7 linked regions of the Homo sapiens genome follow. The protein of the gene in region 1 purifies or fractionates together with the protein of each later gene. This does not show direct contact. Each region holds a gene or a part of one and is shown in the gene's direction. Other genes may lie near its edges.

Region 1 (3,292 bases):
AAACAATAATTTACGTTTCTAATCTAACCAAGTGTGTTGCGTATGATAGGCAGGTAGTAAGTAATATGTAAAGTAATAAAATAAAGTACAATTACTACCAGTATAATTATCACACTCAAAATTGTTTATTAGTGATGAGCATATATCTTCCTTATTCCTCTTCAATGTAAGGCAGAAGGAGTTCCTGTTTTTAGTGAGAATTTGAAATAGAAAAGGTCAGAATATCTCTTTGTTGACAGATGTGGGATCTGTTGTTGAGAGATGTAGAGAAACATGTTTGAACATTTCACTTTGTGTGTTTTATGTGTTAAGTTCCAGGCAGGGGAATAGAATTAAATTATTCTTTATTTTGAAAATACAGATATGATAAAGTCACGTTCATTAAACAAAGAAACACAGATTCTAGAGCAGTCAGAAAATGAACTTCTTAACATCTACACTAGCGGCAGCTTCCTAGAAATCACTGCGCTACGGGCTAGTAACGGAGTCATTGCCATTCAGAGTGTGCATTTTTTTTTCTCTTTCCAGTTTTGCTGGCCCCCCTAATTATCCATTTTCTGATGAATATTAACATGGAGGGCATTGCATGAGGTCTGCCAGAAGGCCCTGCGTGTGGATGGTGACACAGAGGATGGCTCTATGCTGGTGACTGGACACATCGCCTCTGGTTAAATCTCTCCTGCTTGGCGACTTCAGTAAGCTACAGCTAAGCCCATCGGCCGGAAAAGAAAGACAATAATTTTGTTTTTCATTTTGAAAAAATTAAATGCTCTCTCCTAAAGATTCTTCACCTACTTTGGTCTCCATAACTTCTATGTTTTCTCTCCTTCTGACACACTAGTGCCCCCAAATTGTGATTTGCCTATACGTTTAGGGCCGGGGTTGGAAGATGTTAACAACCATTTAAGATTCATTTCTGCAGTGGGAGTGGGTGGAGTTTCACCCTCTGGGAAAGGGGCAGGTGACAGGTATTTATCAGTCAGTGCCTCTCTAGCTCTTGTAGGAAGAAGCACACGCAGGATGGAGTCTAGAGGATGAGCGATATTGACTAGCAATTCATGGGCTCCCTCCAGCAGTGCGAGGGTCAGAGTTTCTGGAGCCTTGGGAGGAGGCATCCCTGTGAGGGGGGGTTAGGGAGATGGGAGGGCACCAGGAAAAGTGATTAGAAGTCAGGTATGGGAAGGCTAAATAGGACAGAGTCGAGTACATCTCTGCTTGGAAAAACATATCAACACCCTTTTTTTTGATCATTATATCTTGTTCATAAAAGAAAACTTTCCACATTGTTTTAACAAACCCCACAGCTGAGAGTCAGGCCTGAATCTTTGATGTGTGCCCATTCACAACGTTGACCCTATTGGTTTGTGGTGGGGCAGGACATCGAAGATATCATTGACTCATCACATTCCCCTGAATAGCTCATATTTAGAAAATATTCTTAGATTGTAAAAATGTACTGTTCATTTGTTATATGCAATCTTTTAAATGTTTTATACTTTAAACAAGGCATAGTTACAAGTATAAAACATAAATATCCCAAAGCCATTATGCATGGCACTCAAGATTAAAATGGGAAATAATACATCTAATAAATCAAATGTTCCAAGACTTCAAATGTCTTTTGGAAACAGGCTATGTAAAACAGCACACTGGTTTCAAACTTTGGTAAATTTTAAGAAGAACTCTTACAAAGGCATTTAATTCTTATACATAATTTTCAGGGGAACTAATCAAATCAGCTAATCATGAAGACATGATTTTCGTTTTAGAAAACACTTTTGAAAACTTGGGATAATCTCATGTCTTAATGATCAAAGCATTATGAGAAGGACAGTGGTTTTTTACCTGGGCACACTTTCTAACACATTTACTCTCCACTATTCGTACTCTGGTAGCCATGTTAACCCCATCAGAGATTCCTTCTCAAGCCATGTCTCAGAGCTGATAGGCATCCCAGCAAGTTTTGCAGCTCACAATTTTTCTGTAAATTACTTATTCTATAAAATTGGAAGAGGCCATAAACTTTGGAGGGCCCTAGACCAATTTTTTGGATTATTTCTGGTCTACTCTCATTCCGTTGATGATCTTAGATATTCTCTGCATTAAATATCACCTCTAGGCTGAGAAATCCACCAAAAAATATTTCTAGCTCAGCGTTTTCCTCCAAATCTTCAATGGAAGATCATAATGTGAACTCTGCATCTCCATGTTAAAGTTTAATGGACATTCACACTTAGCATGTCTCAAAGAAATCTCATGTAAACCATGGCCATCCTGTTCTACCTTAACTTTCTGAGTCTATGGAATGATAATTTCACATCTCATAAACTTGACTGATGTAAGTGTCAAGAAAAGATTGACATTTTGTTAAAACTTCGTAGCCAAGTGTGTAACGCTTAAGCAGACTTTCATATTTCAAATCTCTATAGCACGTGTAACTCTTTTTTCAAGATGTGAAATAATCATTAGGTCAGTCATTTGTAAATAGTACGGCTGCTGTGGGCTTTTTCCAGTTCTTCACCATCCATTTTTATAAAACTCTTATTGTTAAAAAAAAAAAGTTACTCAGAATTTCATAAAGCCAAACACCTGATTTCAGGAACACTTGAGATGTAAGAAAATTTTATAGGGACCTCCAATCACTAATTTTCCTATTTTTTCTCTCAAAGAAATGCTGAAGGGAGGAATTCAGGTTGAATGAAAGGAAATAGTAACTTACAGCCATATAGAGTTATAAAGACTTCTTGTAAATGTGAACATATGGTAAAATATAAAAACATGTATTTTTGAAATTTTGGATTCTACTCATTATTTTACTTCAATTTAAGATATAAATGTATAGAAATAAGTATAATTCTAAGCTAATACGTATGCAATGTAGGAAGCTGTAATTACTGACCAAAACTATGTGAAGTGGAGAAAACCTGGGGAAGTGGATGGTTTTAGATGAAACTGAAGTTAAATTCATATTGATTTAAAGTAAATTGTCATAACTTTATAAAGTTTTTCATCATCACCACAGCAATCACAAAGAGAATAATTATGAATATACGCAAGAGGAAATGAGAAGGGAATCCAAATGTCATTAAAAAAAAATCACGCCACCTCACAAAATGGTAACAGTGGATATAAAGGATAGAAAGCTATAAACCTGGTAGGAAAACATTGAAAATGGCACAAGTGACTCCTTCCCTGTCACCAATGACAGTCATGTGTTGCATAATGCCTGGGCTATCTTCTGAGAATGGCTTTGTTAGGCAACTGTGTCATGGTGGGGACATGATAGCATTAG
Region 2 (3,500 bases), on another chromosome or scaffold:
GAAGCGGAGGCTGAGTGGGGAGCTGTCCGCGGGAACCTGGGGAGATGGGTGCAGAGCAGGGAGAGGGATTTGATTTTTTTTTTCCTTCTCTCTTTTCTTTCTTTTTTTTTTTAAGACAGAGGCTCACTCTGTTCCAGGCTGGAGTGAAGTGGCCCGATCTTGGCTCACTGCCTCCTCTGCCTCCTGGGTTCAAGCGATTCTCCTGCCTCAGCCTCCCAAGTAGCTGGGACTACAGGTGCCCACCACCACGCCCAGCTCATTTTTGTATTTTAGTACAGACGGGATTTCACCATGTGGGCTAGGCCAGTCTCGAACTCCTGACCTCAGATGATCCGCCCGCCTTGGCCTCCCAAAGTGCTGGGATTGTAGGTGTGAGCCACCGCACCCAGCCCAAACCCTACTTTATTCTCCCTCCAGCGTTTATCTCCCGCTCCCGCTACACGACCTGCCCCCATGCTTATGGCCCCCTATACACTTTGCCGTCTGCCTCAGTGCTGTCTCCGCGGTCACTAGTGGCTGGATAGGGACACTCGAGGTCCCCACTGGTGCACACCCACTGCCCAGGAGCACACAGCCCATTCCCCACGGCGGTGTCTCAGAGCACCGAAGGCCAAGAAAGCTGGAATGGCCGGGTGCAGAAAGGTGGCAGGGAATCGGTGGCAAGGAGCCAGGTGCGTGACTAGAGGCGGTCAGCCTCGGGGGCAGCTCCTTCGGGAGTTGCTAAGAAGCAGGATGGGGGCCGGGCGCGGTGGCTCACACCTGTAATCCCAGCACTTTGGAGGGCTGAGACGGGCAGATCACGAGGTCAGGAGATGGAGACCATCTTGGCTAACACGGTGAAACCCCGTCTCTATTAAAAATACAAAAAATGAGCTGGGCCTGGTGGCGGGCGCCTGCAGTCCCAGCTACTCGGGAGGCTGAGGCAGGAGAATGGCCTGAACCGGGGAGGCGGAGCTTGCAGTGAGCCGAGATCGCACCACTGCACTCCAGCCTGGGCGACAGAGTGAGACTCTGTCTCAAAAAAAATAAAAAAGAAAAAAGAGCTGATGGTTGCACAACATTGCAGACGTACGAAATGCTGTGAAATGGTGCGGTTTCAGGTGGTTGAAGTGGTAAACGTCAGGTGTGATATAGCGGGGAGGTGAGAAGGCAGGGCGGGGAGGCAGATCCGGCCAGGTTTGTCCTGCACCGGGAGTGGATTAGAGCTGATGTTTATCAGTGAGTTCTAAGCCGGTTGTCGGCCTGCTTGGAGGGCGGTTTATCTGTGCCCGCCTGCAGTGGCTGGGGCGCCCCCAATGATGGGAAAAGGGAGCATCTGCGTGGGTGTGGTGAGGGGGGACCTCCAGGCCGCTCTATCTGCTGTTGCCCTGGAGTCCCCGGCCCCACCCTCTGCAGAGCTTCTGTGGGGTTCCTGCTGGGGGTGCCCCCAGCCCAGCTCAGTCTCGTGCCCTTTGCTCCACCAGCTCCTGTCCAAATATGACCCCCAGAAGGAGGCAGAGCTCCGCACCTGGATCGAGGGACTCACCGGCCTCTCCATCGGCCCCGACTTCCAGAAGGGCCTGAAGGATGGAACTATCTTATGCACGTGAGTACACGCAGGGACACAGGCTGTCTCACACTTAACAAATCTTGGTTTTTCTCACTTTTTTTCTTAATTAAGAAATTTTTGGGGGGCCGGGCATGGCCTGGCTCATGCCTGTAATCCCAGCACTTTTGGAGGCCGAGGGTGGTGGCGGGGGGCGGTGGATCTCGAGGTCAGGAGTTCGAGACCAGCCTGGCCAACATGGTGAAACCCCGTCTGTACTAATAATACAAAAAAATTAGCCAGGCACCTGTAATCCCAGCTACTCAGGAGGCTGAGGAAGGAGAATTGCTTGAACCCGGGAGGCGGAGGTTGCAGTGAGCCGAGATCACACCATTGCACTCCAGCCGGGGTGACACAGCGAGACTCCATCTCAAAAAAAAAAAAAAAAAAAAAAAAAAGTTAGCTGGGCGTGGTGGCTAAATAAATAATTTTTTTTTTTTGAGGTGGAGTCTCACTCTGTTGCCCAAGCTGGAGTGCAGTGGCATGATCTCGGCTCACTGCAACCTCCACCTCCTGGGTTCAAGTGATTCCCCTGCCTCAGCCTCCCGAGTAGCTGGGATTACAGGCGACTGCCACCATGCCCGGCTAATTTTTTTTGTATATTTAGTAGAGATGGGGTTGCTCCATGTTGGCCAGGCTGGTCTTGAGCCCTTGACGTCACGTGATCTGCCTGCCTCGGCCTTCCAAAGTGCTGGGCTTACAGGCCTGAGCCACCAAACCCAGCCAAAGATTACTTTATAAGAGTGGAAACTTGAGGCCTGGGATGGTGGCTCACGCTTGTAATCCCAGCACTTTGGGAGGTTGAGGTGGACGGATCACGAGGTCAGGAGATCGAGACCAGCCTGGACAACATGGTGAAACTCCATCTCTACTAAAAATGCAAAAATTAGCCGGGTGTGGTGGCAGGCACCTGTAATCCCAGCTACTCGGGAGGCTCAGGGCTGAGGCAGGAGAATCACTTGAACCCGGGAGGTGGAGGTGGCAGTGAGTCTAGATAGTGCCATTGCACTCTAGTCTGGGTGACAGAGCTAGACGCCGTCTCAAAAAAAAAAAAAAAAAGAGTGGAAACTGAGGCCCAGAGAGAGGCCGTGAGTTTGCCCAGGAAGGCGTGAGCTTGGCTGAGATCAGCATCGGGTCTTCACGGTTCCTCGCTGCTCACAGAGGTTTCTGTTTCCCCCGCCCCATGTTGTGCCCTCCAGACTCATGAACAAGCTACAGCCGGGCTCCGTCCCCAAGATCAACCGCTCCATGCAGAACTGGCACCAGGTGAGGGGCTGGTGGAGCGGAGCAGGGATGGTGCTGGGGGCCCATCTAACAGGTGGGGAGACTGAGGCCCACTCACTGTCCCTCTCCTGCCTCTTCCCAGCTAGAAAACCTGTCCAACTTCATCAAGGCCATGGTCAGCTACGGCATGAACCCTGTGGACCTGTTCGAGGCCAACGACCTGTTTGAGAGTGGGAACATGACGCAGGTGCAGGTGTCTCTTCTCGCCCTGGCGGGGAAGGTGAGGCCCAGAGAGGGGCAGCCACCTGCCCAGAGTCACACAGCGAGGTGGATGTAGCTGCTGCATTCACTCGTTTGCAAATTTCTGTTTGTTTATTTTTGAGTCGGAGTCTCACTCTGTCACTCAGGCTGGAGTGCAATGGCGTGATCTCAGCTCACTGCAACCTCCAACTCCCAGGTTCAAGCGATTCTTCTGCCTCAGTCTCCCGAGTAGCTGGGATTACAGGCACCTGCCACCACGCCTGGCTAATTTTTGTATTTTTAGTGGAGACTGGGTTTCACCATGCTGGCCAGGCTGGTCTTGAACTCTTGACTTCAGGTGATCCGCCCGCCTCGGCCTCCCCAAGTGCTGGGATTACAGGCATGAGCCCCTGTGCCCGGCCTCGTTTACAAATATTTCTGAGCATCCGTG
Region 3 (3,500 bases), on another chromosome or scaffold:
TGCAACCTCCACCTCCCAGGTTCAAGCGATTCTCTTGCCTCAGCCTCCCAAGTATCTGGGATTACAGGCATGCACCACCATGCCCAGCTAATTTTGTATTTTTAGTAGAGATGGGGTTTCTCTGTGTTGGTCAGGCTGGTTTTGAACTCCTGACCTCACACGATCCACCTGCCTCGGCCTCCCAAAGTAAAAGTTTTATTTTTTATATCTTTATGTATGGGATAACCCAACACATTTTGTTAAAAAGGACATTTTGAAAATCATTTCTGAAGCTGATAAAAGACATTTGGGAACCTGTCGCTTTGGGGATGTGTGGGTGTGTGGAGCCCTGGAACTGTCCCGGGCTGGCTGTAGCACTGTCAGGGCACCTGTCAGGCCAGCAGTGAGTCTCGTGTGGGAACATGAGCTTGAGGTTCTTCTTTGTATCTCACTCTAGATGGGATGCATAAAACAAAACCTGAAATAATCAGATTTGCTGAAAATAACTACAGAGTAGAATTTAAAACTTGAGTATGTTGAGGGAAGGAATATATATATCTGGGAGAGAATGGATACGTTTTGTTTTTCTGAAATGGAATTAGAAAGATGTTCAGTTGTCTTGTGCATTCTTGCAAACCTTGCAGTTTTGAGAGCCCTGTTTCTGCCTTGTATCATTTTCCACTGTGTATCTGATTCTAGGAGCGTGAACAGGGAGACAAAGGTGAAGTTTGTGCACACCTCTGTCCATGGGGTGGGTCATAGCTTTGTGCAGTCAGCTTTCAAGGCTTTTGACCTTGTTCCTCCTGAGGCTGTTCCTGAACAGAAAGATCCGGATCCTGAGTTTCCAACAGTGAAATACCCGAATCCCGAAGAGGGGAAAGGTGTCTTGGTAACCTAATTTTTTTTTAAATTATGAAATCTGCTTTTATATTCAAAACTATTACTGTCAAGTAAAATACATTTTTATGTGTTTTCATTGTGCTGAAGAAAAACTAATTTCAGCATGGAAATATGTATGTTTGGCTGGGTGCAGCGTCTCATGTCTGTAATCCCAGCACTTTGGGAGACCAAGGCAGGCAGATCACTTGAGGTCAGGTGTTCGAGAACAGCCTGGCCAACATGGCAAAACCCTGTCTCTACTAAAAATACAAAAATTAGCTGGGTGTGGTGGTACATGCCTGTAATCCCAGCCACTTGGGAGGCTGAGGCGCTAGAATTGTTTGAACCTGAGAGATGGAGGTTGCAGTGAGCTGAGATTGCACCACTGCACTCCAGCCTGGGTGACAGGGTGACAGAGCGAGACTTTGTCTCAAAAAAAAAAAAAAAAAAAACAAGAAGTATGTATATTTGTTAGTCATTAATTTCTTAAAGGATCTTTCAAATTAAACACCCCAGGATCAGGATATGAGAACTGAGCTCTAAATGGTGCTTCAAATTCAGTTAATTTAATTTAATTTAATTTGCCGTGTCTCCTTAATGCCAAAAAGAAGCAGTAATAGAGTGAAACTTTAGCAGGTTATGATTTTTATTTCTTGTCATTTTTCTGATATGAAGTGTTGCTTACATTATGGTTTCTGTAACATTTTTAAAGGTTGGGGTAGCAGTGGCATTCAGAGAATCAGTTTATTTTGTTTTATTTGTGAGGCTGATCACACAGCAATGCCCCGAAATACCAGTCCAACCACAGACCTACTGGCGCATGTGCAGCAGGCACACTGGTAGGCTTGGGTCACACACCGATGCTCCCATTATCTGACCTCTGACTTAGGAAGATACTATGTGACCAACCAAGACCAGCTGCAGCTTTTGTTTGCTAAATTTCACTTCTGGAGCTGTCTTGGTTGGTCCTATATTATCTTTCTAAGAGGGGAAAGACCTCTTGAGTTCTTAAGGAACTGAATGTTTTTAAAGACTATCATATGCTCGATTCTTGATTAAATAATCTTTTATTTTCATATTCTTCTTCAGACTTTGTCTTTTGCTTTGGCTGACAAAACCAAGGCCAGAATTGTTTTAGCTAACGACCCGGATGCTGATAGACTTGCTGTGGCAGAAAAGCAAGACAGGTAAAATTAATTGTGATTACCTATATTATAGAACATATAAAGGATGATCTCTTCATTGGTAAAATGTTTCTGGGGAGACGGGACCTATTTGGAAACATTTCCCATTTATTTTGCAAATGATCATTTCACTGAACCTCCTGTAGAGTCTTCTAATGGAGAGCAAGATAGAGATCTAGTGTGGGGGGAGGTTACGTGATTGGCAAGCATAATGCAGAGTAAATCAACCCAGTATATATTTCAAATTGAAACTCCTATTTGGGAACTTCTCATTTTGTAATTGATCTTTTTATAAGTAATGTCTCAGTGTCTAATGAGGGTAAAGCACTTTGGTGCTAGCTGTATGCTTCAGTATTTGCTGAGGGGTTTAGGAGGGAGCAGTACCTTCAAGGAGATGCTGAATTTAGTTTGGACAGACCAGGGAGGAATTCCTGTGGGGTATCGGCACAGTGTTTAAGACAAGTCTGACCAGAGAGTTTGTACAAAGGAGAAGTAAGTACGTGGGGCTAAAGTTGAAAGGTAGGCAGGGCCCAAGCAATTTTGGGCGTCAGGTAGCCTATGTGATGTTTTGGGGGCAGGAGGGTGCTGCTGCTGAAATGGTAGGGTTTTCAGATTGTGATAAAACAGGTTCCATTCTATATCAGTGTTGAGAAAGTTAAGCTAAGATGATACGTCCTGATAGGTGAGATTTACTTCTAGCCATCTGGACTGCCAAGAGAAGCAGAAATTACACATCTTTTCTCTGATGTTCTGACCATTTAGGACTGAGCTTGATCTTAAGGGGTACTGAGCTGTCCCCTCTCAGAATCAGCAATACTGACCAGTCCAGAAATTGAGATAGCAAAACTTACTCTATATATGGGGGATCTTGCCAGCATATTTGTTATATTTAAAACCAAAGGCTTTGCCAAAGATTAATATAGAGCCATTGTGTGTCATGTGTGACATACTTATTTTATACAGTCTTCAAAGACAGGATGTCTGTTCAGGCAAACTGGCTGATATATATGGTAGCTGCTCAGATGTTTGTAAAATGGCAGTTACATTTCTGACCAGTTATTTAAAGATGATGAATAACAAGAACAGCCTTGCAGAAAATACTTAGATGCTTTGTTTGCTAAATTGTTTTATCCCCATGACACTTTAGAGTCTTCCTTAAGATTATGGAAATGAATGGTGGTTGTTGTTTTTTTTTTCTTTCAGTGGTGAATGGAGGGTGTTTTCAGGCAATGAGTTGGGGGCCCTCCTGGGCTGGTGGCTTTTTACATCTTGGAAAGAGAAGAACCAGGATCGCAGTGCTCTCAAAGACACGTACATGTTGTCCAGCACCGTCTCCTCCAAAATCTTGCGGGCCATTGCCTTAAAGGAAGGTTTTCATTTTGAGGTAGGGTGTTTCTGGGACTCACTCATTTTCCTTTCATCTGCTCTGTAGAAGATCTAAGGCATGTCTTTCTCTTT
Region 4 (3,500 bases), on another chromosome or scaffold:
GGGATGGGAGAGGCCGCACTGCCCTTGGCTTCCTGAGTCCTCTGCAGGCCCAAGGCCCCGTGGTCCCAAAGATCGTCCTGCAGCTCTGGCCTCTGAGGAACACAGGGGTCTGGGAAGAACATGGAAATTTCCTGGGTTCCTTTCTCAGTTTTGGCCTAGGCTTTTGGTAGGTGCAGGAGACAGGAGTGGCAATTGGTGCTGACCAACAAACTGGCCACCTCCATTTCAGATTGTCACAGCCCTGGCCATTGCGGGAACCCTCAAGTTCAACCCAGAGACCGACTACCTGACGGGCACGGATGGCAAGAAGTTCAGGCTGGAGGCTCCGGATGCAGATGAGCTTCCCAAAGGGGTGAGCGCCCACGCCCCCTGCTTGCTGGTTGCTGTGTGGCCACGTCACTTCCTTCTCAACCTCACAGCACCTCCTGTGCAGGCAGGGAGGGCGCTGCTAGTGAGAAGGAAGCAGCTCTGTTCCCTGGGAGGGGAGGTGGGGCCCGAGGAAACTTGCCTTCTGAGAGTCTGTCCTTGTGGGAACTGAGGACTCAGCACCCCACGCATCCCCATTCCCTGCTGCAGGAGTTTGACCCAGGGCAGGACACCTACCAGCACCCACCCAAGGACAGCAGCGGGCAGCATGTGGACGTGAGCCCCACCAGCCAGCGCCTGCAGCTCCTGGAGCCTTTTGACAAGTGGGATGGCAAGGACCTGGAGGACCTGCAGATCCTCATCAAGGTCAGCAGCATGGGGACGGCAGGACAGCCCCACCCTGCCAGGGCCCCCCGTCCCCTGAGCATCGGGAAGGGCCATGAACCTGGAGGAAGTGAGCACAGTCAAGACGCAGGTGGGAGATGGAAGGGAGGTTTGGCTGCAGAGCAGAGAGGGTATCGCAACGCAGTCCAGCGTCCCCCTTCTCTGTGGCCCCGAACTGGGCAGAGCTAGATCTGGCCAGCCTCCGTCTGGGGCCCTCAGCCATCCAGCAGCAGCTGATCAGAGCCACCTCCAGTGGGTGTGGGCAGGTGAGTACAGCTCAGGCTGGGCTGGGACAGTGTGTGTGATTGCACAGCAGGCTCCACACCTGGCACGTCCACACAGGCTCTGGAAGCCATGGACAACTCCTGCCCCCACAGTTGGGCACCCGTGGATATGGGATGGCTTGTGTTTGGCACCGACCAAAAACAAGCCTTTTTGGTGTGGCCAGAGGCCTCCAATCTGTGTCAGATATTTATTTATGCTGCTTATTAAGGGGTCTCCAGGCACCCCTGTGACAGAAGAGACTAATCAGTCATCAGCCAGGACCCAGGCATGTCCTGGGCTCCTGTGTCCAGCATGAGGTCTGTGGCTGATCTTGCAGCTGAGGCCTGAAGGGTGAGCGAACATTGACCTGTCCCAACTTTGGGCGGCCTCTGCCCCATAAGGGAGACTGAGCAGCCAGAGGCCTTTGAGGGGATGAAGGCCTGGCCTGAGCCCATGTGGCCTTAGGGTGGAAGCACCAGGACCACAGAACACGTGTCTGAAGACTTGCCTGCCTCTCACCCCTCTGTCACCCCTCCTGGGCCCCGGGGCCTGCTGCCTGCCTCTGGAGGGCTTGTCATCCACCCCTCCAGGGCCATGCCCTGACCTCTGTCCTCTCTACTTACCACCCAAGGTCAAAGGGAAGTGTACCACTGACCACATCTCAGCTGCTGGCCCCTGGCTCAAGTTCCGTGGGCACTTGGATAACATCTCCAACAACCTGCTCATTGGTGCCATCAACATTGAAAACGGCAAGGCCAACTCCGTGCGCAATGCCGTCACTCAGGAGTTTGGCCCCGTCCCTGACACTGCCCGCTACTACAAGGTGGGTCAGAGTTGATAGGGGCAATGCCAGTGGTCACTCCTGAAGGGGCCTGCAAGGCAGGTGCAGGGAGGACATTAGGGGAGTGGAAACTGGGAAGGAGGCCGACCAAGCCCAAAGGGGACTGCTGTGGAAGGGAGGAGAGGCCTGCAGCCCCTCCCTGTGGCTGAGAAGGCATGAGGCCCAGGTCCGGTGGTACAGCCGGGTCCCTGCACCAGGAGGAGTTAGTGAGAGATATCTTAGGATATCTGGCCCTAGACAAAGACAAGGAAGGGGGCCGACTCAGGAAGTCAGAGGCCAAAAGCTCAGAGAGGGGGCTACACGGGGCCTCACAGTGAGCAGGCAGAGAGGGTCTGAGGTGATTGGACTTTTTCTGCTTTGAGAAACAAACAGAACCAGGGCTGAACCCAAGTCCTGGCCCAGCCGGGTGAAAGGACTCTGGCACCCCCTGGTGGCTGGGTGGGGCAGAGGGTGCTCCCAGGAAGGGGGCGCCTTGAGCTTCACAGATGCATCTTGTGTGGGGCCCGGAGGCCGTCCCTGTCTCACCCAACCTCCCTCCACACACACCTGCCTCTGCCAAGCACCAATGGGTGGCTTCTGTCTTCTTTGCCACTGCAAACAACCACGTGCCTCTGTCCCCTCGGGGCCTCGTTTGGGTCTCATTCACGCAGGCTTCACTTGCCCTTAGGCAGCAGGCGAGGAAGGGCCCCTCCAGCCCCTTTACCGGGAGCCTCAGGATGCCCAGGCGCCAGGTGGGTGAGGCCAGGCAGGTAGGGCCAGACAGGTGAGGACGGTGCCCTCCTCTGCCTTATAACCTTACCCCCGCTTGCCTGACAGAAACATGGCATCAGGTGGGTGGTGATCGGAGACGAGAACTACGGCGAGGGCTCGAGCCGGGAGCATGCAGCTCTGGAGCCTCGCCACCTTGGGGGCCGGGCCATCATCACCAAGAGCTTTGCCAGGATCCACGGTGAGCTGGAGTCTGTACCCAGGCCATCCTCATCCCATCCCTAGTGATCAAGGTCACTCTCCCTGCCCGTGGCTGAGTTGGGCCTGGTTCTAGGCTGTGTCCACTGCAGCCCACAGGCCCGTCAGCCTCTTGCCCCTTCTTAGGCTCACACAGTGCACATCCGACGCTCAGCTTCCCGGCTTCCCGCAGGCCCTGCTTCCAGGCTTGTAGATCTGAGCCGCTGAGATCTAGGACATGTGCCAGGGGGTTCTTTCTGATCATGAATGTGCAGCAGGAAGGCCTCGCAGACCTCAGCACCAGCGCACACTTGCTAGGGGCACCCCTAGTGAAAGGGAGCAGACCAGGGCCCCATAGTCACTGCCCGGGCATTGTCCCAGGCAGCAGGATTAGGGGCATCTCCCAGAGCCCCAGATGGGTTCAGAAAATGAAGCTCTCCAGGCTAGTCAGGCCCCCGATGACCGAATGCCGCCTGCTTTCCAGAGACCAACCTGAAGAAACAGGGCCTGCTGCCTCTGACCTTCGCTGACCCGGCTGACTACAACAAGATTCACCCTGTGGACAAGCTGACCATTCAGGGCCTGAAGGACTTCACCCCTGGCAAGGTTAGGGGCCCGGGTCCCCCTGAGGTGGTGGGGTGAGGGGCAGCCACCTTGTTTCCCCTCCTGCACTGGCCCCAGGGTAGCTTCTCCCAGGAGG
Region 5 (3,500 bases), on another chromosome or scaffold:
GGAGGTCTCTGCTCCAAAATTCCGTCATTCCCTTCTCACCTCCCTCAGACCTCCTCCAAAGCTGATTTGCAGACTAAGCCAGTAATACATATCTCACAAGGTGTGGAGCTCTGCAGGACATTCAAGCTAAAAGATGCAAAGAAAATTTTTAAGCAAAAAGGAGTTCATTTATTTGGGGTTTCACAAAACCTCATTAGGCTCTCTACTGTCTATCTAAATACTTCCATCCATTTCCTCCTATCCTGTCCATAACTGAAGGTGGAGCCCACTGTTACTTAACGGTATTTGTGTTAAGGACACTGAGCAATGCCGTATTAGTTGTATAATGACTTCACTACCTGCTGGGTTTGAATCCCAGGCTCGTCATTTGCTGGCTGCAGTGCAGCTCTTTCAGACTTGTAATTTTAAGGTAGTAGCACATGGTAAACACTCAAAAAATGTTATTTCTTATCCTTCTATCTATTTTGGAGGTTTGGTATAGCATAGTAGGAAGATGAGGGACTTTGAAGTGAGACGTGGGTTTGAATTAAATCTTTATGGCCTTGGGCAAATCAGTGAGACACGGTAGTCTCTGTTTAATATGTACATGTACTTGTTCCGAGAATTCAATGAATAATGTATGTAAAGTGTTCAGATCCTAGCCATCAATATTTATTGGATGTCTTTAAATCACCTAGTGCATTATGAGAGCTCAGTTAGTGGCAGCTATTAACAATTTGGGTTTGCCTGTTGCCTTTTCTAGGGTTTGGGTGTTTTATTCGTTGTATTTTGAATGAATCTTAATGTAGCATGCCATACTGAATGTGCATCATGTATACACATATCTTAATATCAAATCAGAAGTTTTCGTTTCACACTCAGCTTATTTTAGGAAACATATATTGCTCTGTTCATAGTGAATCTGATTGATTAATTGAATGTTTTATTCCCTGCATATGCTTTTATGTCTTCAGTACCAACCCTCTTGAGGAAGAAGTGCAAGAATTTTCTCTTATAATCCTCTCATTTGTGATTATTCTTGTCTTGGTAATTTTTGACACTATCCACAGTATAGTTACATGTTACATGCCTTGTGTTTTTTAAACCTTAAAGTTGCATATGCATTGCTGTAACTCAAGCATGCTTTCATTGCTTTGTTCCCTAGTTCAAACTATGTTTTAACTGATGAGCAATCACTTTGGATTGAAGATACTACAAAATCAGTTTATCAAGTAAGTTCAACACGCAACAAACCCATGATTGAAAAAATGGAAATTTAGGATTTTCTTTGTTTCAGCCCCAAATAGGAAAATAAGGATAAAGTTAAGCTCAGGTACAAGACCACAAACACTCCTTGGTTCTCTGCCTACAAACCACTCCTATGATGCAGAAAGTTGTTGAAAGCTTAGTATATTCTTTCTAATCACAGCTACTATCTGAAAACCCCCCCGATGGAGAAAGATTTTCAAAGATGGTAGAGGTATGTGTTTTTTATGCTTACATCCTCTTCTTAGCACGAAATAGAACTTCAGAGGATTCCACTAACCAAAATGTAATCGCTTTGTTTTTCCCAGCATATATTAAACACTGAAGAAAACTGGAACTCGTGGAAAAATGAAGGTTGCCCAAGTTTTGTGAAAGAAAGGTAAATACATACTGAAAGAAAGGTAAATACATACTCATCACAAGAACGACGAGAAAGGCTTTTGAAAATGTGCTCCGATATGATTATAGCATGTAAAAATACATGTATATATTTCACATAAAAAATGTAAGTTGAACTTTGTAAGAGTACAACCACTTTGATTTACCTCTGTATTTTTTAAACCTCATAAATTTCTTGTCATTAAATTCCTGGAACAAACATCTTATTATTGAGAAGAATACTGTATATCTACTCCGTGTAATTTGCCATATAATGTGGCATTTTTATCTTATATCTGATAATTGTTCTATCATAATATGAAGTTTTCATTTTTTTTTTTTTTTTGAGAGGGAGTCTCACTCTGTCACCCAGGCTGGAGTGCAGTGGCATGATCTTGGCTCACCGCAGCCTCCGCCTCTTGGGTTCAAGCGATTCTCATGCCTCAGCCTCCTGAGTTGCTGGGATTACAGGCGCCTACCACCATGCCTGGCTAATTTTTGTATTTTTAGTAGAGACAGGCTTTCACCATGTTGGCCAGGCTGGTCTCAAACTCCTGACCTCAGGTGATCCACCTACCTCAGCCTCCCAAAGTGCTGGGATTACAGGCATGAGCCACCATGCCCAGCCAGTTTTCATCTTTTTTAAGAGGAAAACAATAACTAAATTTTCTTTTACGTTAAACATTCTTCTATTTCTGTTATCCATTTGTAATTCAAAAAATAGTGTATGTTTTGTTCACGACAGAACATCAGATACCAAACCTACGAGAATAATTCGGAAGAGAACAGCACCCGAGGACTTCCTAGGGAAAGGACCCACCAAAAAAATTCTGATGGGAAAGTAGGTGAATTTGTCTTCATGTGGGATGTTCTTAGTTATTTTTATATTTTGAAGATGTTACTTTAAGAACTCTCCATCCAAAATATAGTATGAGATTGTGTTTGGTACACACATAGATAGCCAAAGCAAACCGCACTGTCTATACTGCCCATTGTGTGGGTTCATGCACCAGATAAACCTTCATTTTGTCTCCAGCTTCCAAAATCTGTGTCTCTAGGCTGTGCCATTTTTTCCGTTTCAGACAGTAGAATTGTTTAGATTCCAGTTGTTGCAAGGTACCATAATCCTTGAGTTCTCTTACCTTCCAGTTAACTATTCATTGCTTTATATTGTGCTGGAATATTTTTAGAAAAAACTAAAGATTATATCATTATCATTAGTCATGATTAATGATTATATGCTCATATAGAGAATAATTTTAGGTATTTTAAATACCAAAAATTATTGAGAAAAGTAAAACTCATACTGTCAACATCCCCAAATCCACTGTTTACATTGTATTGTTTTTCTGTTCAGTTTCAAGGCACATGAGGATGGTGTCCATAAAAAATGTATTTATTTCTGTGTCTATTTTGTAGTGAGGAGTTAACAAGGCTTTGGAATCTTTGCCCTGATAATATGGAAGCCTGTAAATCAGAGACAAGGCAAGTTGAACATTTTTCAAATGAAGTGTTGCTTTTGTCAAGTGTTGAGTAGAATGGAGCCTTTTCTCAGCTATGATCAGAGCTCAAATGAAATTTAAAAGTTTATTGTGGTTGACTTTTGGCACAGCAGCGTGTAACTTCCCACCATAAAACTCCTCAAAGTGCTGATAAAATAATTTTAGAAATCACAAAAAAATAAAGATTCACAAAAGGAATCAAAACTACAAACAGAAGAGTAAGCCTATGAACTGATACGGTTCTAGGGCAGCAGTACTAATGATTGCCAGCTTTGAGAACCAGGGAACTTGGGTTTTAATAGTCACAAAAGTTCGTTGAACTTGCAAAATGGGCAAGTTTAATAGCAGTCTAGACATAGGTAAAGTAAGAATTAA
Region 6 (3,500 bases), on another chromosome or scaffold:
TTGCCATGTCTAAAGGGTACCCATCTTGGGGCATGGATAATCCAGGGTGCCGCAGACAGGCAGGTCCCAGGAGAGAGATGGTGCCCGGAGGAAGGGATGGGGGAGCACACGTGTATGTGTCTCATTGTCACTCACAGCAAACAGTGATTGCTGACCACTCGCTGAGCGCCAGCCACATGGAGACCACCATGAAACTTCTGAAGACCAGGGTGCAGTCCCGCCTGGCCCTCCACAAACAGTTTGCATCCCTAGGTAAGCTGATGATGGGGCAGTGGTTTAAGAGTCACTCAGACAACACACGGACAACAACAACTTAGCCTTTCACTCAAAACTTGAATCCTGATGACAAATACAAGACCTGGATTCCTGGCTTTACGGAGTGGGCATCTTGGCAGAGCCACTGGGGAGAGCTCCAGGCCTGTCCAGGCAGAGGACCGAGCTCCCCCTTAGAGCCATCAGTGCTGTCCTGCCTCACAGAGGAGGCCCAGAGCCATTGGGTGGCACAAGTTTGTGGACTGGTCGGGGCAGTTCATCCTAGGTCATGCATTGCAGATTTTGATGTGCATTCGACACATATTTAGTGAGATCCTGATTCATGCCAGGCACTGAGCATAGTGCTGGGGGAAGAACTGAGCACAGTGAACCCCTGCCCCTGGCTCTGTGGCTCACAGTCAGCTTTTTGAATATAGCTATCCAGGGAGCAACTCGCATATCCCTTCCCCAAGGCCTACTGACCTCGTGTTCCCCAGGGTGAGGCTGAGCCTATGTTTTCTTCTAAGCTCCCAAGTGATAATGATGAGCCACTGACTTAGGTGGTGGCATTTGGGGGCTTCTTTTAGTTTATTCACTCAGTAAGTGGTTGTCAAATGCTTACCATGTGGCAGGGGGATGGGGTCAAGATTTTTCTGACCTAAAAGAGTCTCTGGGACAGGCGCAGTGGCTCTTGCCTGTAATCACAGCACTTTGGGAGGCCAAGGCAGACAGATCACTTGAGGTCAGGAGTTCAAGACCAGCCTGCCAACATGGTGAAACTCCGTCTCTACTAAAAATACAAAAATTAGCTGGGCATGGTGGTGTGCACTTGTATTCCCAGCTACTCAGGAGGCTGAAGCAGGAGAATTGCTTGAACCTGAGAGGCGGAAGTTGCAGTGAGCTGAGATCGCATCACTGTATTCCAGCCTGGGCAACAAAGCGAGACTCCATCTCAAAATAAAAAGTAAAAAATAAAAAAGAGTCTCTGTCAGGAAAGGCATTGGGTTTCCAGGACACATCTGGAGACCACTCCCCACCAGTTCTTAGACTCCACATGGCTGCCGATCTCTCCAGAGCACTGATGTTTGTCCATCGGGCCGTGCTCCCCATCAGCACTGCTGAGTTTGTTTTGTCCCAAGGTAGGGAACTTGTCATTCTGGACAGTACTTACTGTGTTGGCATATTTGCTTATTTAAATGCCAGCAGGAATTTACCCTGGAGCAGTTATCTGGCTCTTCTCCCTGACACACAACACTTCAGTTGTTTCCTCCATCAAGGTCAGCTATGAAAACACAGGCCTCTATGCTATTTGATCTAATTAACAGTCACTGCTGCAGGGGCACCCTCCCTAGTTCTGACTGTAAGGGTTTTTCTTTGGCAGGCTATCATTTGCATTAAAGAGAAAGCACCATAAGTGCTGGCACTGGATCTGGCCACAAGCACATAGCACTGGGTGAAGGTCAGGTTGACATGCTTGCATTCCTGGCACGTGTTGACCTGGGTACTTCCTGAGTACCAGGTATACCAGGATAGCTGGCCGGGCCATCTGAGCCCTTCAGAGAGCCCCAGGAGGATGCTAGTTACCCATCTGTGGCACCTGATTTCTACCTGTGACGTCATCTGTCTTGTTCTCTTTTAGAACATGGCATTGTGCCAGTTACCAGTGATTGCCAGTACCTCTTCCCTGCCAAGGTTGTCTCTCGCCTGGTGAAATGGGTGACAGTTGCCCATGAGGATTACATGGTAGGTGAAGGAGTGACAAGTTACCCTTACTGTCCTGAGGATTGCAGGACCATGTCACCTTTCAGCTCCTGCCACCTCACTGGAAGAGCAGGGGGTTTAACCAGAGGAGCCAGCAGTTCACCTCTTGTCTGTGGTACCTCTTCTAGGAGCTGCACTTCACCAAAGACATTGTGGATGCGGGACTGGCTGGGGACACCAATCTCTACTACATGGCGCTCATCGAAAGGGGCACAGGTAATTGCTCTGCTGATTACAGGGGTTCTAGACAAAGGGCGCTGCCAAGAATCAAACACTCTCCGGGGCTGCCCAAAGCAGAAGATCCTGGAGTCCTGCAAGGACTTAACAGATAATAATGATCGTGAGAGCCTGTTCAGCAAGGACTCATTCTGCAACACAGTCACACACACGCTGTGTATCACTGAACCCTCACTGCAGTCCTAGGGGTGGTGCTTTCATTTCTATTTTACATGGGAGGAAATTCAGGCTTAGTTGCAAGCCCAGTCTGAGCGCTGAGCCTGAGCTCTTTGCTCCTTCCTTCACCGCTTTCTAGTACCGGACATCTCCTCCTTCTCCCTCTTCATAACAGGGCTGAGGTGTCACCCTCAGGTTGTAAAGGGCAGGGCCACAGGGCCTCGCTCCCTCTTCTGCAGTCCCTGCACTCACTTTAGAGGCATTGAAAGCTCTGATTCTTCATACCTCTTCTGGCATCTGACTCTGCCAGGGCTCCCTGCTGAAGTCCTGGGATGTTGTGTTTGGGCCGTTGTGCTGTTGTCCCACCCAAGCCGCAGCAAGCCTGGCACTGCCCGTGGGATCTGACACCCTCAAGACTTGGTGCTGAGCTGAGGAAGTTGTCTGTAGTTCTAAGACAGTTCCAGAACTGTAAGGAAAGGCTGAACTCTTTGGTATCAGAGTTTCTGTCCTCACTACCCCACTTTCTTCTCTTTCTATTCTTCATGTCTTTTAAAAAAAAAATTCTGAAGAAACTGAATATTTCAGATACAGTTGAGGCCTCCCTATCCCACTTTATTCCCTTTCTCCTAATAAGTGACCACTATTTGGATTTTATGCATTTGCTTTCCATCCTTTCCCCGCTACACCCTTTTTTTTTTTTTTTTCAGTAGAGATAAGGTCTTGCTTTGTCGCCCAGGCTGGAGTGCAGTGGCACGATCATAGCTCACTGCAATCTTGAACTCCTGGACTCAAGCAATCCTTCTTCCACCTTAGCTCCCTGAGTAGCTGCGACTACAGGTATGCTACCATGCTCAGCTAAGATTTTTTGTTTTTGTTTTTGTTTTTTTGTAGAGGCATGTTCTTACTATGTTGCCAAGCCTGGTCTCAAACTCCTGGCCTTTCTTCCAAAGTGCTGGGATTGTAGGCATCAGCCATCATGCCTGGCCTCTCCCCTTTCAAAATTTAATTTAACTTATTTTTTGAGACAGGGTCTTGCTCTGTTGCCTAGACTGGAGTACAGTGGCTCAGTCATGGCTCACTGCAGCCTCAACTGC
Region 7 (3,500 bases), on another chromosome or scaffold:
AGGGGTTATCAACCTCAATGCCTTTGACCCCACACTCCCGAAGACGATGACGCAGTTCCTAGAGCAGGGAGAGGCCACCCTCTCAGTGGCAAGAAGGTAAGTAAGTGGGCAGCATCGCCCTGAAGCAGCTGCCCTGGTCCCCCTGCACCCTCCCCGCTCTGGGAAACAGCACCAGCAGGTAGCTCTTTTGCAAGGGAGCAGAGTAACCCCACCTTTCCTTTTCTCCCGTTCTCTTAAAAGATCCTTAGAAATCTTACATAATAACATCTTCAGTTTTCAGAGGAGAAAACTGAGAGCTAGGGGAGGTGATTAACAATTTGAAGGCCATACATGTGGTGCTGGAACCAGGACTCTATACTTCATCACACTGCCTCCTCTGGGAATGAAGTCCTGGACTGACTGACGGGTCTGGGCCCGGGGGTCCTAAAAGGCATCTTATGCAGCTGGGGGAGTGATATAGACTCCCAGCTCCTACAAGGAGAGAGGACTGCAAGGAGGTTTTCTATAAGACACTTGGTTCCTGGGTTTGGACTAGATTAGGTGAGAGTGTCCCTGAAGCCTGGACCCCTATAGAATCTGGTCTAAGGAGCTGATGAACAATAAATTAAAAATACTTTAAGATGTCATTTTCATCTATTAAAATGGAAAAAAATACAAATGTTTCACAGCTCACAGTATTAACAGTATGTTCCCATATTGCCATATTCTGCAAAGACTGGAAATCTCCATGCCCCTCATTAGGGACTTGGGTATATCTCTATAGAGCAGTAATATGCAGCCACAAGAAATAAAGAGGACACTCTCTATGTATTGTTACATATTGTTAAGCAGAGATCTCCAAAATCAGTTGTTTTTTTAAAAGATGTAAATAGTATGCTATCATTTGCATACAAAAGGGTGGGAGAAGAATATCCATAGAGTAGCTGCGAAGAGCCAGGGGAACGGGGTAACCGGAAGGGGAAAGGGAAACCTTTCCATGTATTCCAGTTTGTATCTTTTACATGGACATGAGTTACCTAAGGGGGAGAGGAAATCAACACTGGATAAATAAAAGCCCTGCTCTGATAGCAAAGGACAATAGTCAGTGATTTTCACACTGACTCTGATGGTTGATAGAGCTAGGAAATAGATTTCAAAAAGCAAAACCTGTAGCTGCTGCAGGATCTGCCCAGCCTGCCCGGGATTGCCCACCTGTTCCCAGCCAGACCCTCTCACCTGCTCTGGTCTCTACAGAGCCCTGGCTGCCCAGTTGCCAGTCCTACCACGGTCGGAGGTAACCTTCCTGGCTCCAGTCACACGACCAGATAAGGTGGTGTGTGTGGGCATGAATTATGTGGACCACTGCAAAGAACAGAACGTGCCCGTGCCCAAGGAGCCCATCATCTTCAGCAAGTTTGCCAGCTCCATCGTGGGGCCCTATGATGAGGTGGTCCTCCCACCACAGAGCCAGGTCAGTGTCTCCCCACTGCCCTCCCTAGTCACTGGGCCCATCACAAGGGCATTCTGAGCTCAGTATTGAGCCTACTGGAGCCACCTCTCGCTCAATAGCGCATTCAGCAGAAACTCTACAGGATTGTACACACAGTAGTAACACTGGCCTTGGAAAAAAAAAGTTAATGTACGTGTTTTCCTGGTTACAAAAGCAATGCACCTTCACTGTAGATAATAAAATAGAGATAAACATTAAAAAATTATGTCACCCATAATCCCACTGCCCATGGCTCGGAATATTAATGTTTTTCTGTCTACCTTCCCAGTGTTTCTCCGCTCCTGTATATGTTTATACTGTACATATACTTACCTTTTACTTAAGACTCCATCAGGAGCATTTTTTCATGCCATTAAGTATTCGCCCTGACACCACGGAGTTTGTTATGTAGATTAGTTTATTCCTGAGTACCTTACTGCTGGATACTGTTTCTAGTTTTTGGCTTCTATAAATAAATGTTGCAGTAAACATCCTTATGTGGAAAAGGCTTTGCATGTCCATTAATACATTATTATTTCCTTTGAATAAACCCTTTGGAATTTAAATATGTCAGCGTATAGGCAGTATTTCAAAATTTTTGAAAAATTCTGCCAATTGGCCTTTTAAAAAATTGTAAAAGCAACTTACACATCCACCAGTAGTGTATATACCCTTTCTAACACTGGTTACTTTTTCTCTCAGATTTTTATTTTAGAAATGTCTTGAAAATTATAGAAAAGCTGGGAAAATAATACAGTGAACACTCAGATAACTTTTCCACCTGGTTTCATTGTAAACATTTGGCCATATATCCTTTTTCTCCCTTGTCTTCTCCCTGCCCTCCACATGGCAAACACACATTTTTTTTTTTTTTTTTTTTTTTTGCAGGGTATGGGGTGGAGGGGACCTTTTAAAACACATTGGAAATATTAAGACAATTTAGTCATAAAAACGTAAATAGGCATCTTCTAAGAATAAGGACAATGGCTTGCATGACCATCCCACCATTATCACAACCAAAAAAATTAACTTGAATAATATTTAATATGAAATCCAATTGCCCCAATTCCCAATCGGAAGTACTGCTGACTTCCCCAAAGATAACTTCTAATTTGGTTACTTCGTTTGTTGCTCCATGATCAACCAAGGCCACACACTGTATTCAGTTATATCTCTTTAGTGGTTTCAATCTAGGACAGGGTTCCATAGACTTTTTCTTAAAGGGCTGTATTAGTCTGTTTTCATGCTGCTGATAAAGACATATCCGAGACTGAGCAATTTACAAAAAAAAGAGGTTTAATTGGACTTACAGTTCCACGTGGCTAGGGAAGCCTCACAATCATGGCAGAAGGCAAGGAGGAGCAAGTCACATCTTAGGTGGATAGCAGCAGGCAGAAAAGAGCTTGTGCAGAGAAACTCCCATTTTTAAAACTATCAGATCTCATGAGACCCATTCACTATCATGAGAACAGCACGGGAAAGACCTGCCCCCATGATTCAGTCATCTCCCACCGGGTCCGTCCCATAGCACGTTAGAATTATGGGAGCTACAAGTTGAGATTTGGGTGGGGACACAGAGCTAAACCATATCAAGGGCCAATTAGTAAATATTAGGCTTTGCGTGTCATATGTTCTGTTTTGCAACAATTCAACTCTGCTGTTATAGTGTGAAAACCACGATACAGAAATGAATGATGGGTTTCCAATCAAAGTTGATTATAGCAGATGTTGAGCTGGCCATAGTTTGCCAACTCCTGCTCTCAAACAATACCCCCTGCCCTTTCCTTGAAGAATCCAGTTGTCTCATAGCATGTTTCACATTCTGGGTTTGTCTGGTTGTTTCTTCATGATTAGTGTCAGGGTAAGCATTTTTATCAAGAGATCTACAAAGCAGATGTTATACATTTTCCATCGTATCCCACTGGGAGGCTCATGTCAGTGGTCCCAGAATTTGACCACTTGGTTTAGCTGACATTCACTAGGTCCCTCCATTGTGAAGATGCATTTCTATTTTTGTAATAAGCAATCCATG

What was found.
Region 2: the proteins of AKR1C2 (region 1) and CNN2 fractionate together in Homo sapiens (co-fractionation; one large-scale study listed by BioGRID). This does not show direct contact.
Region 3: the proteins of AKR1C2 (region 1) and PGM2 fractionate together in Homo sapiens (co-fractionation; one large-scale study listed by BioGRID). This does not show direct contact.
Region 4: the proteins of AKR1C2 (region 1) and ACO2 fractionate together in Homo sapiens (co-fractionation; one large-scale study listed by BioGRID). This does not show direct contact.
Region 5: the proteins of AKR1C2 (region 1) and THOC1 purify together in Homo sapiens (co-immunoprecipitation; one large-scale study listed by IntAct). This does not show direct contact.
Region 6: the proteins of AKR1C2 (region 1) and THOC5 purify together in Homo sapiens (co-immunoprecipitation; one large-scale study listed by IntAct). This does not show direct contact.
Region 7: the proteins of AKR1C2 (region 1) and FAHD2A fractionate together in Homo sapiens (co-fractionation; one large-scale study listed by BioGRID). This does not show direct contact.

The regions. Positions count from the first base shown.
Region 1 is NC_000010.11:4,987,275-4,990,566, reverse strand, and holds the end of AKR1C2 (aldo-keto reductase family 1 member C2), read left to right. Parts: intron 1-528; coding exon 529-571; 3' UTR 572-2,792; downstream 2,793-3,292. UniProt on the Homo sapiens protein: Cytosolic aldo-keto reductase that catalyzes the NADH and NADPH-dependent reduction of ketosteroids to hydroxysteroids.
Region 2 is NC_000019.10:1,029,608-1,033,107, forward strand, and holds part of CNN2 (calponin-2), read left to right. Parts: intron 1-1,463; coding exon 1,464-1,585; intron 1,586-2,784; coding exon 2,785-2,851; intron 2,852-2,951; coding exon 2,952-3,089; intron 3,090-3,500. UniProt on the Homo sapiens protein: Thin filament-associated protein that is implicated in the regulation and modulation of smooth muscle contraction. It is capable of binding to actin, calmodulin and tropomyosin. The interaction of calponin with actin inhibits the actomyosin Mg-ATPase activity.
Region 3 is NC_000004.12:37,843,686-37,847,185, forward strand, and holds part of PGM2 (phosphopentomutase), read left to right. Parts: intron 1-678; coding exon 679-868; intron 869-1,947; coding exon 1,948-2,045; intron 2,046-3,245; coding exon 3,246-3,426; intron 3,427-3,500. UniProt on the Homo sapiens protein: Catalyzes the conversion of the nucleoside breakdown products ribose-1-phosphate and deoxyribose-1-phosphate to the corresponding 5-phosphopentoses.
Region 4 is NC_000022.11:41,524,617-41,528,116, forward strand, and holds part of ACO2 (aconitate hydratase, mitochondrial precursor), read left to right. Parts: intron 1-229; coding exon 230-352; intron 353-576; coding exon 577-732; intron 733-1,182; exon of another isoform or gene 1,183-1,645; coding exon 1,646-1,837; exon of another isoform or gene 1,838-2,671; coding exon 2,672-2,804; exon of another isoform or gene 2,805-3,284; coding exon 3,285-3,406; exon of another isoform or gene 3,407-3,500. UniProt on the Homo sapiens protein: Catalyzes the isomerization of citrate to isocitrate via cis-aconitate.
Region 5 is NC_000018.10:223,048-226,547, reverse strand, and holds part of THOC1 (THO complex subunit 1), read left to right. Parts: intron 1-1,144; coding exon 1,145-1,211; intron 1,212-1,408; coding exon 1,409-1,459; intron 1,460-1,553; coding exon 1,554-1,624; intron 1,625-2,347; coding exon of another isoform or gene 2,348-2,368; coding exon 2,369-2,464; intron 2,465-3,042; coding exon 3,043-3,108; intron 3,109-3,500. UniProt on the Homo sapiens protein: Component of the THO subcomplex of the TREX complex which is thought to couple mRNA transcription, processing and nuclear export, and which specifically associates with spliced mRNA and not with unspliced pre-mRNA.
Region 6 is NC_000022.11:29,515,758-29,519,257, reverse strand, and holds part of THOC5 (THO complex subunit 5), read left to right. Parts: intron 1-137; coding exon 138-252; intron 253-1,891; coding exon 1,892-1,995; intron 1,996-2,141; coding exon 2,142-2,229; intron 2,230-3,500. UniProt on the Homo sapiens protein: Component of the THO subcomplex of the TREX complex which is thought to couple mRNA transcription, processing and nuclear export, and which specifically associates with spliced mRNA and not with unspliced pre-mRNA.
Region 7 is NC_000002.12:95,405,708-95,409,207, forward strand, and holds part of FAHD2A (oxaloacetate tautomerase FAHD2A, mitochondrial), read left to right. Parts: coding exon 1-96; intron 97-1,233; coding exon 1,234-1,450; intron 1,451-3,500. UniProt on the Homo sapiens protein: Tautomerase that converts enol-oxaloacetate, a strong inhibitor of succinate dehydrogenase, to the physiological keto form of oxaloacetate. It is thereby required to maximize aerobic respiration efficiency by preventing succinate dehydrogenase inhibition.